Homo sapiens: one gene and its partners. The protein of the gene in region 4 purifies or fractionates together with the protein of the main gene of each other region. This does not show direct contact. Each region holds a gene or a part of one and is shown on either strand. Other genes may lie near its edges.

Region 1 (3,500 bases), on a different chromosome or scaffold from region 4:
GCCTCGGGCCAGTAGGGTGGCCTGGACCCAGCTCATGCCTCTGCTTGTCAGACAATCACCTGGCCCAAAAGAAGATTCAGCATTAGCCTGGCACCTTACAGATGCTAACAGACGCAAGGGCCCCGCAGGGTCGAGGGCACACTCCAGATTATGTGGCTCACTCACCAGCCCCAATGTTTACCTTACCCAAGAAACAGGCTGATGACTCAAAGACTTTGTTCTTGGGACAGCACCCTAATCCTGCTGCCCCAGGGGCGTGATCATAGCTCAATGCAGCCTCCAACTTCTGGGCCCAAGTGATCCTCCAGCCCCAGAGCGTCGAGAAGCTGGGACTACAGACGCGTGCCACCATGCCCAGCTAATTTGAAAATAGTTTGCAGAGACCCAGGGTCTTGCTGTGTTGCCCAGGCTGGTCTCGAACTGTTGGCTTCAAGTGATCCTCCCATCTCTGTCTCCAAAAGTGCTGGGATCATGGGTGTGAGCCAGCACTCCTAGCCACTACAATCTAATTTTACAAAATCTGTGTCACTCCAACAAGAATCCCTGTACCTGGCCAGGCGCGGTGGCTCACGCCTGTAATCACAACATTCTGGGAGGCTGAGGCGGGCGGATCACTCGAAGTTGGGAGTTCGAGACCAGCCTGACCAACATGGAGAAACCCCATCGCTACTAAAAATACAAAAAATTAGCCGAGCATGGTGGCGCACGCCTGTAATTCCAGCTACTGGGAAGGCTGACGTAGGAGAATTGCTTGAACCCAGGAGGCAGAGGTTGCAGTGAGCCAAGATGATGCCATTACACCTCAGCCTGGGGAACAACAGCAAAACTCCATCTCCAGAAAAAAAAAAAAAGAAGAAAAAAAAAAAAGAAAGAAACCCTGTACCCATTAGCACTCAATTTCCCTTCACTCCCAACCCCAAGAAACCACTCATCCACTGTCTCTATAGATCTCCCTATGCCGGCCATTTCATACAAATGGAATCTGGAATCACAAGTGCTCCTTTATGATTGGTTTCCTTCACTTGACATGTTTTTTTTCTTTTTTCTTTTTTTCTGAGATGCAGTCTCGCTCTGTCACCCAGGCTGAAGTGCAATAGTGCCATCTCGGCTCACTGCAACCTTCGCCTCCCGGATTCAAGCGATTCCCATGCCTCAGCATCCCGAGTAGCTGGGATTACAGGTACATGCCACCACGCCCGGCTAATTTTTGTATTTTTAGTAGAGATGGGGTTTTATCACGTTGGCCAGGCTGGTCTCGAACTCCTGACCTCAAGTGATCCGCCAGCCTCAGCCTCCCCAAGTGCTGGGATTACAGGCGTGAGCCACCGCACCTGGCCCACTGACGTGTTTTCAAGGTTCATGCATAGATTTTTTTTTAATTTTTATTATTTTTATTTTTAGACAGGATCTTGCTTTGTTTCCCAGGCTGGAGTGCAGTGGCACAATCTCAGCTCACTGCAACCTCTGCTTTCCGGGCTCACGATTCTCCTGCCTCAGCCTCCTGAGTAGCTGGGACTATAGGTGTGTGCCACTGCATCCAGCTAATTTATAGATTTTTTTGTAGAGATGGGGTTTCGCCATGTTGCCAAGCTGGTCTCAAACTCCTTACCTTGTGATCCGTCCGCCTCAGCCTCCCGAAGTGCTGGGATTATAGTCGTGAGCCACCGCACCCGGGCTTTTTTTTTTTTGAGATGGAGTTTCATTCTTGTTGCCCAGGCTGGATTGCAATGGCATGATCTTGGCTCACTGCAACCTCTGCCTCCCGGGTTCAAGTGATTCTCCTGCCTCAGCCTCCCAAGTAGCTGGGATTACAGGCACCCGCCACCATACCCAGCTAATTTTTGTATTTTTAGTAGAGATAGGGTTTCACCATGTTGGCCAGGCTGGTCTTGAACTCCTGACATCAAGTGATCCACCCACCTTGGCCTCCCAAATTGCTAGGATTACAATCATGCCCGGCCAATTCCACTGTTTTTGGAATGGAATATAACCAGGTTTTGTATGGCTATAACCATATTTTATTTATGCATTCATCAATTGATGGACATTTGGGGTTGTTTGCCAAATGTTTTTGACTGTTATAACTACTACTGCCATGAACATTCGTGTAGAAGTTTTATGTGAACACATGTTTATACTTCTCTTGGGTATATACTTAGGAGTCAAACTGCTGAGACATATGGTAACTACATGTTTAACATTTTTAGGAACTGCCAGACTGTTTTTGGGGATGACTGCACCATTTCACATTCCCATCGGCAACGTACAGTTGACCCTTCATCAACAAAGGCTTGAACAGCATAAGTCCATTTATACGTGGATTTTTTTTTTTTTTTTCAGTAAAAGTTATGGCTGTACGTGGTGGCTAACGCCTGTAATCACAGCACTTCGGGAGGTCGAAGCAGGCAGATCACCTGAGGCCAGGAGTTCGAGAGCAGCCTGGCCAACATGGGAGAGACCCTATCTCTACTAAAAAAACAAAAAAACAAAAATTAGCCAGGCTGGGGGCACACTCCTGCAGTCCCCAGCTACTCAGGAGGCGGAGGCAGGAGAATCACTTGAACCCAGGAGGCAGAAGCTGCAGTGAGCCAAGATCGTGCCACTGCACTCCAGCCTGGGCGAAAGAGGAAGACTCTGTCTGAAAAATAAGAATAAGACCAGGTGTGGTGGCTCACGCCTGTAATCCCAGCACTTTGGGAGGCCAGGCAGGATAATCACTTGAGGTCAAGAGTTCAAGACCAACCAACCAACGTGGCAAAACCCCATCTCTACTAAAAATACAAAAATTAGCCAGGCTCCTTTTGCCGGTGGCGGCAAGCATGGAGAGGATGCCATGAAGGCCTCGGGCACACTACAAGAGTACAAGGTGGTGGGTTGCTGCCTGCTCACTCCCAAATGCCACACACCACCCCTCTACCACATGCGAATCTTTGCACCTGATCATGTCGTTGCCAAGTCCCACTTCTGGTACTTTGTATCTCAGCTAAAGAAGATGAAGAAGTCTTCGGGGAGACTGTCAACTGTGGGCAGGCATTCGAGAAGTACCGCCTGCGGGTGAAGAACTTCGGCATCTGGCTGCGCTACAAACTCCCAGAGCAGCACCCACAACATGTACCAGGAATATTGGGACCTGACCACCACGGGCGCTGTCACCCAGTGCTACCGAGACATGGGCGCCCGGTACCCCACCTGGACCCATTCCATCCAGATCATGAAGATGGAGGAGATAGCAGCCAGCAAGTCCCACCGGCTGGCCGTCAAGCAGTTCCAAGACTCCAAGATCAAGTTCCCGCTGCCCCACCAGGTCCTGCGCCATCAGCACAAGCCACGCTTCACCACCAAAAGGCCCAACACCTTCTTCTAGGGGTAGGGCCCTCACCCAGGTGTGCCCCACGTAAACTCAGGAACGCCCCGGTAAAAAAAAAAAAAATTAGCCAGTCATGGTGGTACATGCCTGTAATCCCAGCTACTCAGGAGGCTGAGGTGGGAGAATTGCTTGC
Region 2 (4,129 bases), on a different chromosome or scaffold from region 4:
GGCGGACAGATCACCTGAGGTCAGGGGTTCAAGACCAGCCTGGCCAACATGGTGAAATCCCGTCTCTACTAACAATACAAAAATTAGCCGGGCATGGTAGTGGGCGCCCGTAATCCCCGCTACTTGGGAGGCTGAGGTAGAAGAATCGCTTGAACCCGGGAGGTAGAGACTGCAGTGAGCCGAGACCGCACCACTGCACCCCAGCCTGGGCAACCAGAGCAAGAGTCCGTCTCAAACAAAAAAAGGCAAGAAGAAAAAATGCTAACAAGGTGACTCTGAAAAAGCTAGAGATCATTAAAGCACTGTGCTGCCGTGACAGACTCCATTCTTCAGGGAGCGGTGGGGGGAGGTGACAGCTCACAGGGACCGTGGCACGCATCACATTCAACTGAGTGTTTAAAACCTAATACCGCCTGTACATAGACTAGAAGGGGAAATTGGAGAAGGCTGCCAACACAGCCCCGATCAATTTCCAATCCCTGAGGAGAGCGGAAAACCTATGAGACCCCCCCTCACCCGGGCCCTCCTCTATTCAGGCCCATCAACCTTACACGGCCCCCTTTAAATCGACCCTTCGGAGGACTGGTGAGAGTGATGTGGGGAAATACCCTCCTTGGGGCAGAATAAACAAGCATGACGTCAGGGCTGAACGCCCGCGTCTAGCTTCTCTCCTTGGGCCTAGCCCTTGCGTGAGCAAACAATAGGCGCCTTCCAGGCTGGAAAGCCGAGCGCCGCCCGGGAGCCCCGCAAAACCCGGGAGGGGTTGCACAGGGACCTTTTGAAGGAGCAAGGGCGGAGGCTGCAGGCACAGAGCGCGGGCCCGCCTCCCCGCAGCCTGAGCCCTCGGCCAGCGGGCGCTCCAAGGTCAGTGCCCGAGGCCGGTCCGCAGCCGCTGCGAGACCGGGTAAGATGGACCGGGCACTTCGGGGCGGCCCCCCGAGCCTGGAGCCACCGAGCCCGGAGTCCCCACGGGCCGGCCTCAATGTCACCTGGCTCCGAGGCCCATTCGGTGCTTCCTGCTGAAGCCGAGCGGCCAGGCTGCGGACGTGCAGACTTGATGGCTCCCGGCCCCCCGACCCGGCCCGGCCTGGCGGCGCCGCACCGGCCACCTCCTGTCTCACCTGCCGCCACTGCCCGCCGCGACCGCCCTCTACACCCGGTGTCCCGCGACCGGAAGAGAGCAAGGCCGCGCCGCGGAGCACCACGGGATCGAGGAAGACTCCGCCCGCACCCGGCCGCACGGAGGTCACCGTGGAGCGGAAAAGGGTAGCGCTGCGAACGTCGTAAAATGCCGGGCCGGGCTGCTTTCCGGCAGGCGTTGGAGAGGCTGCTTTCCGGCGGCGCCGGGCGAGAAGCGCGACTGGAGTCTGGGGCTGCGGCTTCCCAGAGGCGCGAGTCGCTTTTCCAGGAGCCGAGGCCCAAACGGGGCCGGGCCTGAAGGGTCCCCCGCCAGCCCGCGGCCGCGCCATCAATCGCCGCCGCCTCGTCCCGCTTCTCGGCTGAGGCGCCGCGCGGCCAGGCAGCGGGTCCAGGCCTCAGCCGCGCGCCCAGGGGCCTCCGGGGCCCTCCCGGGTCAGCATGCCCGGGGTGAAACTGACCACCCAGGCCTACTGCAAGATGGTGCTGCACGGCGCCAAGTACCCGCACTGCGCCGTCAACGGGCTCCTGGTGGCCGAGAAGCAGAAGCCGCGTAAGGAGCACCTCCCCCTGGGCGGCCCCGGCGCCCACCACACCCTCTTCGTGGACTGCATCCCCCTCTTCCACGGCACCCTGGCCCTCGCCCCCATGCTGGAGGTGGCTCTCACCCTGGTAAGCGCGGAAAGGGCCCCTTCCCCTTGCAGGCAGCCTGGCCTCCCCTCAGTCAGCAGAGAGGAAGCTGGCCCAGCGGTCGCCCTCCAGCAGGCTCCTAGGACCCGCTCCCTAGGGTTGCCGTGGCCAGGAATGGGGTGATCCACGATGGCGCTTGGGTCTTGGCGCTGAATAAATAGCGTCCCGTAGTAGCAGCGACTTTAACCGTCGTGGATGCTTTTAGAGGCACTTTAAGGCGACGAGTTATACGTTAGTTTCCTGAAATCAGTAGCCTTTGTAGAAACAAGTCATCGTTCACTTGGTGGGGATTCGACAGAGTTTCCCTTGAGGATTTCGAGTTGCAGGAAGTGTTCACGTTGTTGGGACATTAATCGCTAGGATTTGGTTCTTCGCACCTTCGCAGAGCCGATTCCTTATCTGGCAAAGTGTAAATGCTTCTTTGGCTGTCGGTACTCGGGCACCCCGGAGCTCAGACACTTGTAGAAAGGTAGTTGCATGGTCAGATCTGTGTGATGCATCTTAGGCCTGGCTCCCCTTGATTGAATGTGCCTGAGCTTTGTGTAAAGAGAATTTGTTCCCGTTAATGGTTAACAACTTATCTAGAATGTTTCCATGGCTTTTAAAAGCTAAAGAATTTCTGTGGGGCCGGGCGCGGTGGCTGACCCCTGTAATCCTAGCACTTTGGGAGGCCGAGGCAGGCGGATCACCTGAGGTCAGAAGTTTGAGACCAGCCTGACCAACATGGTGAAACCCCTTCTCTACTAAAAATACAAAACTTAGCCGGGCGTGGTGGCGGGCGCCTGTCATCCCAGCCACTCGGGAGGCTGAGGCAAGAGAATCGCTTGAACCCAGGAGGCAGAGGTTGCAGTGAGCCGAGATCACGCCACTGCACTCCAGCCTGGGTGACAGAGCAAGACTCCGTCTCAAAAAAAAAAAAAAAAAAAAAAAAACGAATTTCTGTGACATTAAACAGCAGGAGCAGACGATCTGTCCAACACGCTTTTATGTTTTTGTTTGCAATGACAGCTTTATTGAAGTACAGTGGGAAAAAAGATGTAGCATGCAGGTAGACTAGTTGGTAAGTGAATTTTAGGCAGTAGCTTTTCAGTTCCGGTGATCAATGAAGGGAAAAAGACCATCTATAAATTCCATCGAGTTGTTAAAACCTGAAGGAAAAGTAAACTGTAGCTTCAGACCTGCATACCTGAGCTGAGGTGCTGTTTGTTTTTCATTTAAGAATAAACTGTGATGCTAAAAAATAGTAGCTAATTGATGTAAGAAGTAGCTAAGCTTGAGAAGGTGTAAGTAGAATTTCTTTATCTGTGTCCCTCCTCCACCAAGTAAAACGAAGCCATTTCATAATCTACCATTTATAACTTAACTAATTATGACACCCAAGTCAGTTCTGGGCAAGCAAGAAGTATCTCTGGGCAAAGAGTCCTGGCGTAAGGTTCCTGGGCACATCTTTGAGTGCCTGTTAAAGTTAAACTTCATATCATTTCCGGGTAGGATTCAGATGATTATAATACTTAGATGATATTTATAAAACTAAGTATTTTAGCTCTTGAAGATATCTGCTGTCATTACTGAAACACCACTGGGGAGTGTGTGTGTGTGTTTTAATCCAGGTCTTTCCAACCATCTTTTTGTTTTTTTGAGATGGAGTTTCGCTCTTGTCACCCAGCCTGGAGTGCAATGGCATGATCTCGGCTCACTGCAACTTCCACCTCCCAGATTCAGGTGATTCTTCTGCTTCAGCCTCCCAGGTAGCTGGGATTTCAGGCGTCCACCACCACACCCAGCTAATTTTTGTATTTTTAGTAGAGATGGGGTTTCACTGTGTTGACCAGGCTGGTCTTGAACTCCTTACCTCAAGTAATACGGCCACCTCCGCATCCCAAAGTGCTGGGATTCCAGGCATGAGCCACTGCGCTCAGCCTTTCCAACCATCTTAATTGTTCTGTTGTCAAGAGAATTATTGGATCTGTGAAATGCATTGACTTGCAGGGAGCTAGATTCATCAGTAGCATTTATGCGGGATTATTCACTTTTCTAATAAATGTTTTTGAGTATCTGCTTTGTGCCAGGCCCGTGCTGAGGAGGGATATGGCTGTGGATGAAACACAGTACCTGCTTAGCACTTGAAGGTGCAGCAAGCCAGCAAGCACAGCACCTAAACCTCACAGGCGGAGCTTAGTAAAAAAGTGGCAAGGGATTCGAGAGAAGTCAGCCAGCCTAGGCTTGGGCAATCAGGGCAGTCAGGTTGCCCAGAGAAAGGAACATGCAGGCAGCGGGCCAGCCTTTGACCCTCAGGAGGTGG
Region 3 (3,500 bases), on a different chromosome or scaffold from region 4:
ATGGCGAAACCCTGTCTCTATTAAAAATACAAAAATTACCTGGGCATGGTGGTGCATGCATGTAATCCCAGCCACTCCGGAGGCTGAGGCATGAGAATCGTTTGAATCTGGGAGGTGGAGGTTGCAGTGAGCTGAGGTTGTGCCACTGCACTCCAGCCTGGATGACAGAGCAAGATTCTGTCTCAAAAATAAAATACAGTTGGCAGTTTGTTTCTGACTTTAACAGCCTTCTCTCTTCTCTTGGTATGCCTCCTCTAATATTAGGTTCCATCAGTAAACCTGTAAAGAATTATATACATCGGCCGGGCACGGTGGCTCACGCCTGTAATCCCAGCACTTTGGGAGGCCGAGGTGGGCGGATCACGAGGTTAAGAGATCGAGACCATCCTGGCCAACATGGTGAAACCCATCTCTACTAAAAATACAATAATTGGCATGGTGATGCATGCCTGTAATCCCAGCTACTTGGGAGGCTGAGGCAGGAGAATCACTTGAATCTGGGAGGCGGAGGTTGCAGTGAGCCAAGATTGTGCCACTGCACTCCAACCTGGCAATAAAGCAAGATTCCATCTCAAAAAAAAAAAAAATATATTATATACATCAAATATGAGTCAGGACATTTTTGAAACTTTACACAAAATGTAGGAATTTCGTGACAACTCTAAGGCCCTCTTTGCTTCAGCAAGTAGTTGCTGGAAGATTACACAGTTACATGACATGCATTGAGTATCACTTTTTTCTGGAACTATTTCTGTTTTATTTCAGAACCTGTCTGAGAAACTCTCTGAACAAGAATTACAATTTCGTCGTCTCAGTCAAGAGCAAGTTGACAACTTTACTCTGGATATAAATACTGCCTATGCCAGACTCAGAGGAATCGAACAGGCTGTTCAGAGTAAGCATAAGCTATGTTTATCTTACAGATAATTTTCCTCAGCATAATTTATCAAAATAATTTTATAGGGAAAATGGGGTACATGTACTGACATCAGGACATAAAAATACTAATCACTCTACTTAATTGCAGTTTTTGCCATTAAAAGTAATGGCAAAATCTATATAACTAGAAATTTATACCTTGTATGACAAACACAAAATCACCATTTACAAGGCTATTTACCCAGTATCCTTTGGCTATGTCGCATGTGCCTGGGTGGTAAGGGCTAGGGGTCAGTGTGGTCCCATGCTTGCCTTCCACAGACTTGGTGGGTTATCTGGAGGTGGTGATTTGCCGAGTCCAACTACCAAATGGACAGTATTTATGCTGAGGCCTCCATGTGCCACATTGAAAGAGAAATGTCATGACAATGAGGGTATTAATAAAATGGGTTTTTTTAGGATGTTATGGAATCTTTTTTTGTCACATAACAATAAAAATAAATTCAATACTCATGGAATTTCAAGATCCAGTAGTCTGTTAAGTTCGTTTGAAGTCTCCCATTTCTTTTTTTTTTTTTTTTTTTTTTTTGAGACAGAGTCTTGCTCTGTCGCCCAGGGTAGAGTGCAGTGGTGTGATATCGACTCACTGCAGCCTCCGCCTCCTGGGTTCAAGCGATTCTCCTGCCTCAGACTCCTGAGTAGCTGGGAATACAGGTGCGTGCCACCACGCCTGGCTAGGTTTTGTATTTTTAGTAGACACAGGGTTTCACCATGTTGGCCAGGCTAGTCCTGAACTCCTGACCACAAGTGATCCACCCACCTCGGCCTCCCAAATTGCTGGGATTACAGGCATGAGCCATTGTGCCTGGCCCTGAAGTCTCCCATTTCTTTGCAGAAAATTTCTCATGGCCTTAGCGTTAAGTCTTAGCCTAATTTAAATAATATGTTTCTTTCTCAACTAGTAAAGGTAAAAATATGTGGATTAGATATCATGCAGATGTGAATGACTTCTGACTTTGATATGAAGAGGCCAGCTAGGAAAATACACCAGAAATAAGTGGTGGGGGTGGGGTTGTAAGAAAGTCTCTCTGGCCTCATCTTGCACATGTGTAGATGTAGCTTGTTGAATGTGCATCAGTTCTGTGGATGTATGTTGTCAGATGGAGAGAAAAATGTTTGGCTTTGCCTTTTTTTCTTTGTAGGCCATGCAGTTGCTGAAGAGGAAGCCAGAAAAGCCCACCAACTCTGGCTTTCAGTGGAGGCATTAAAGTACAGCATGAAGACCTCATCTGCAGAAACACCTACTATCCCGCTGGGTAGTGCAGTTGAGGCCATCAAAGCCAACTGTTCTGATAATGAATTCACCCAAGCTTTAACCGCAGCTATCCCTCCAGAGTCCCTGACCCGTGGGGTGTACAGTGAAGAGACCCTTAGAGCCCGTTTCTATGCTGTTCAAAAACTGGCCCGAAGGGTAGCAATGATTGATGAAACCAGAAATAGCTTGTACCAGTACTTCCTCTCCTACCTACAGTCCCTGCTCCTATTCCCACCTCAGCAACTGAAGCCGCCCCCAGAGCTCTGCCCTGAGGATATAAACACATTTAAATTACTGTCATATGCTTCCTATTGCATTGAGCATGGTGATCTGGAGCTAGCAGCAAAGTTTGTCAATCAGCTGAAGGGGGAATCCAGACGAGTGGCACAGGACTGGCTGAAGGAAGCCCGAATGACCCTAGAAACGAAACAGATAGTGGAAATCCTGACAGCATATGCCAGCGCCGTAGGAATAGGAACCACTCAGGTGCAGCCAGAGTGAGGTTTAGGAAGATTTTCATAAAGTCATATTTCATGTCAAAGGAAATCAGCAGTGATAGATGAAGGGTTCGCAGCGAGAGTCCCGGACTTGTCTAGAAATGAGCAGGTTTACAAGTACTGTTCTAAATGTTAACACCTGTTGCATTTATATTCTTTCCATTTGCTATCATGTCAGTGAACGCCAGGAGTGCTTTCTTTGCAACTTGTGTAACATTTTCTGTTTTTTCAGGTTTTACTGATGAGGCTTGTGAGGCCAATCAAAATAATGTTTGTGATCTCTACTACTGTTGATTTTGCCCTCGGAGCAAACTGAATAAAGCAACAAGATGAAAACTGAGTATCTTATCCCTTTTCAAAAAGTACAGTTCTGGCCAGGTGCAGTAGCTCACGCCTGTAATCCCAGCACTTTGGGAGGCTGAGGCGGGTGGATCACCTGAGGTTGGGAGTTCGAGACCAGCCTGACCAACATGGAGAAACCCATCTCTACTAAAAATACAAAATTAAGCTGGGCGTGGTGGCGAATGCCTGTAATCCCAGCTACTCGGGAGGCTGAGGCAGGAGAATCGCTTGAACCTGGGAGGTGGAGGTTGCAGTGAGTCAGGATCGCACCATCGCACTCCAGCCTGGGCAACAAGAGCAAAACTCCGTCTCAAAAAAAAAAAATTCTAGTTTGTTGTATGTACAGAAAATATCCTTGAGAAACAACAACAGCAGAAGTAGGAACTTCTAGCTCACAGTTTCCAGGCTGTGAATTGCGTCACCAGAAGTCCACAGCCTGCTTTTTGCCTTTGAAGGTTTTGGTGAAT
Region 4 (3,500 bases):
CTTGGTTTTTTTTGATGCAGGCACTTATAGGTATAAACTTCCGTCTTAATATCCTACAGGTTTCAGTATGTTGTGTTTTCATTATCATTTGTTAAAAGAAGTTTTTCAATTCCTTTCTTAATTTCTTTATTGACTGATTGGTCATCCAGGAGCATATTGTTTAATTTCCACGTATTTGTGCAGTTTCCAAACTTCCTCTTGTTACTGACTTCTATTTAATTCCATTGTGGTCAGAGAAGATGTTTAATATTATTTCAATTTTTTGAATGTTTTAAGGCTTGTTTTGTTACCTAAAATATGGTCTATCCTTGAGAATGATCCATATGCTGAAGAAAAGAATGTGTATTCTGTAGCTGATGAATAGAATGTTCTATAAATATCTATTATGTTCATTTGGTCTATAGTATAGATTAAGTCCAATGTTACTTTGTTGATTTTCCAACTGAAAGATCGGTCCAATGCTGAAAGCAGAGTGTTAAACTCTCCAGCTATTATTATATTGGAGACTATCTATTTCTTTAGCTCTAATAATATTTTCCTTACATATCTGGGTGTGCCAGTATTGGATGCATATATATTTATATTGTTATATTCTCTTGCTGAATTGACCCCTTTATCATTATACAGTGACCTCCTTTGTGTCTTCTTACAGTTTTTGTCTCAAGATCTATTTTGTCTGAAATAAGTATAGCTACTGTTGCTCCTTTTCGGTTTCCATTGGGATGGAATGTCTCTTTTTATCCCTTCATTTTTAGTCTGCATGTGTCTTTATAGGTGGAGTGTGTTTCTTGTGGGAAATAGATCATTAGGTCTTGTTTTTTCATCCATTCAGCCACTCTATGTACTTTGATTGGAAAGTTTAATCCATTTACATTCAATATTATTATTAATAAGTAAGCACTTACTTCTGCCATTTTGTTATTTGTTTTCTGGTTGTTTTTTGATCTTCTCTTCCTTCTTTCTTTCCTTCCTGTCTTCCTTTTAGTGAAGGTGATTTTCTCTGGTGGTATGATTTAATTTCCTGCTTTTTGTTTTTCATATATCTACTGTATATTTTTTGATTCAAGGTTACTATGAGGCTTGCAAATACTATCTTATAGCCCATTATTGTAAGCTGATAACAACTTAACTCTGCTTGCATTAACAAACAAGTAAGCAAAAAAAGAAAACTAATAAAAACTCTACATTTTAACTTTGTCTCCCACTTTTTAACTTTTTATTGTTTCTATTTATAACTTTGTTTTTACTGTCTATGTCTTGAAAAGTTGTTGTAGTTATCATTTTTATTGGTTCATCTTTTAGTCTTTCTACTTAAGATAAGAGTACTTTACATACCACAGTTGCACTGTTGTGATATTGTGTTTTTCCATGTACCTACTATAATCAGTGAATTTTGTATATTCAGATGATTTCTTATTGCTCATTAATGTCCTTTACTTTCAGATTAAAGAGCTGTTTTTAGCAATTCTTATAGGACTGATGTGCTGTTGATTAAATCCCTCAGCTTTTATTTGTCTGGGAAAGTCTTTATTTCCCCTTCATGTTTGAAGGATATTTTCATCAGATACGCTATTCTAAGGTAAAGGGTTTTTTGCTTCAGCAACTTAAATATGCCATGCCACTCTCTCCTGGCCTATAAGATTTCCACTTGGGGAACATCCCAAGCCCAGTAACGCTGTGGGTCTGCTACCAGACATATTGGAGCTCCACTGTATATTATTTGCTTCTTTTCTCTTGCTGCTTTTAGGATCCTTTCATTATCCTTGAACTTTGGGGGTTTGATTATTAAGTGCCTTAAGGTAGTCTTCTTTGGCTTAAATCTACTTGGTGTTCTATAACCTTCTTGTACTTGGATATTGATATCTTTCCCTAGGTTTGGGAAGTTCTCTGTTATTATCCCTTGGAATAAACTTTCTACCCCTATCTATTTCTCTACTTCCTCTTTAAGGCCAGTAACTCTTACATTTGCCCTTTTGAGGCTATTTTTTAGACCTTACAAGTGTGCTTCATTGTTTCTTATTCTTTTTTCTTTTGTATCCTCTGACTTCTGTGACCCCTCTGATTCTGTTATTAATATACTCTGATGCATTCCTCAGTATGTGAATTTCATTTTTTAACTCCAGAATTTCTGCTTGATCCTTCTTAATTATTTCTATCTCTTAGTTTATCTGATAGAATTCTGAATTTCTTTTCTGTGTTATCTTGAATTTCTTTGAGTTTCCTCAACACAGGTATTTTGGATTCTCTGTCTAAAAGGTCACATATTTCTGTTTCTCCAGGATTGGTCCCTGGTGCCTTATTTACCTCAACTGGTGAGGTCATGTTTTCCTGAATGGTCTTGATACTTGTGGATGTTCATCAGTGTCTGGGCATAGAAGATTTAGGTATTTATTGTAGTCTTCATGGTCTGGGTTTATACCCATCCTTCTTGGGAAGGCTTTCCAGGTATTCAAAAGGACTTGGGTGCTGTGACCTAAGCTCTATCTGCATGGGGGACATCCCAAGCCCAGTAATGCTGTGGGTCTTGCAGACTCGTAGAGGTACCCACCTGGTTGGTCTTGGATAAGATCTGAAAGATTTATCTGGATTACCAGACAGAGACTCTTATTCTTTTTCCTTACTTTCTCCCAAACAGAATCTCTTTCTCTATGCTGACCTTCCCAGACCTGGGAGTGGGGTGACACAAGCATCCCTGTGACCACCACCACTGGGACTGCATTGGGTCAGACCTGAAGCCAGCATAGCACTGAGTCTCACTCAAGGCCCACTGTAACCACTACATGGCTACTGCTTATGTTTTGTCAATGTCCTGGGGCTCTATAATCAGCATATGGTGAAGCCAGCCAAGCCTGTGACCTCCCCTTCAGGGCAGTGAGTTCCACCAGGCCCTAAATAGGTCTGGAGATGCTATCTTAGAACCAGGGACTGGAGTCAAAAACCTTATAAATCTACCTGGTGTTCTGTCCTCCTGTGGCTGAGCTGAAACTCGATTCATGAGACATAGTTCTTTCCACTCTTCCCTCCCCTTTCTGCAGGCAGAGGAGCTTCACCCTATGACCACTACCATCACAGGCCCACAGGGTCACTGCCAGACTACCACTGATTTTTGTTTAAGGCACAGGGGCTGTTTGGTCAGCTTGTCACGAATGCTGCCAGGCCTAGAACCTACCCTTTATGTCTGTGGGCTCCTATCTGGCTCAGGGCAGGTCCAGAAATGCTATCCAAGAGTCAAGGCCTAGAATCTTGGACCCCAAGAGCTGACCTTTACTTCTCTGTGGCCAGTCTGTTACATAAGGTGCAAGACAAAGCCCCCTTTACTTTTCTCTCTTCTTTTCTCAAGCAGAAGAATGTGCTGGGTTTCATCTGAAGCCCAAGACATCTCAGTCTCACCCAAGGCCCATAACATACTACCTAGGTATTGCTGCTTGTTATTCAGGGCCCAAGAATTCTTTCATCAGCAGGTAAGGGATCCTGTCAGGACTGTGTACTTATCTTCAAGA

Evidence for each region. The genes of interacting proteins can lie anywhere in the genome.
Region 1: the proteins of CLEC5A (region 4) and ECSIT purify together in Homo sapiens (affinity purification with mass spectrometry; 3 studies listed by BioGRID and IntAct, with this or other methods). This does not show direct contact.
Region 2: the proteins of CLEC5A (region 4) and EMC8 purify together in Homo sapiens (affinity purification with mass spectrometry, with the first as the bait; one large-scale study listed by BioGRID). This does not show direct contact.
Region 3: the proteins of CLEC5A (region 4) and IMMT purify together in Homo sapiens (affinity purification with mass spectrometry; 2 studies listed by BioGRID and IntAct, with this or other methods). This does not show direct contact.

The regions. Positions count from the first base shown.
Region 1 is NC_000019.10:11,519,135-11,522,634, forward strand, and holds part of ECSIT (evolutionarily conserved signaling intermediate in Toll pathway, mitochondrial isoform 1 precursor), read right to left. Parts: intron 3,417-3,500; exon of another isoform or gene 2,797-3,416; intron 60-2,796; 5' UTR 37-59; coding exon 1-36.
Region 2 is NC_000016.10:85,796,745-85,800,873, reverse strand, and holds the start of EMC8 (ER membrane protein complex subunit 8), read left to right. Parts: upstream 1-1,329; 5' UTR 1,330-1,578; coding exon 1,579-1,809; exon of another isoform or gene 1,810-4,129. Other genes in the region: COX4I1 (cytochrome c oxidase subunit 4 isoform 1, mitochondrial), read right to left, coding at 990-1,006. UniProt on the Homo sapiens protein: Part of the endoplasmic reticulum membrane protein complex (EMC) that enables the energy-independent insertion into endoplasmic reticulum membranes of newly synthesized membrane proteins.
Region 3 is NC_000002.12:86,143,463-86,146,962, reverse strand, and holds the end of IMMT (MICOS complex subunit MIC60), read left to right. Parts: intron 1-765; coding exon 766-895; coding exon of another isoform or gene 896-927; exon of another isoform or gene 928-1,403; intron 1,404-1,475; coding exon of another isoform or gene 1,476-1,593; intron 1,594-2,081; coding exon 2,082-2,695; 3' UTR 2,696-3,027; downstream 3,028-3,500. UniProt on the Homo sapiens protein: Component of the MICOS complex, a large protein complex of the mitochondrial inner membrane that plays crucial roles in the maintenance of crista junctions, inner membrane architecture, and formation of contact sites to the outer membrane.
Region 4 is NC_000007.14:141,936,975-141,940,474, reverse strand, and holds part of CLEC5A (C-type lectin domain family 5 member A), read left to right. Parts: intron 1-3,500.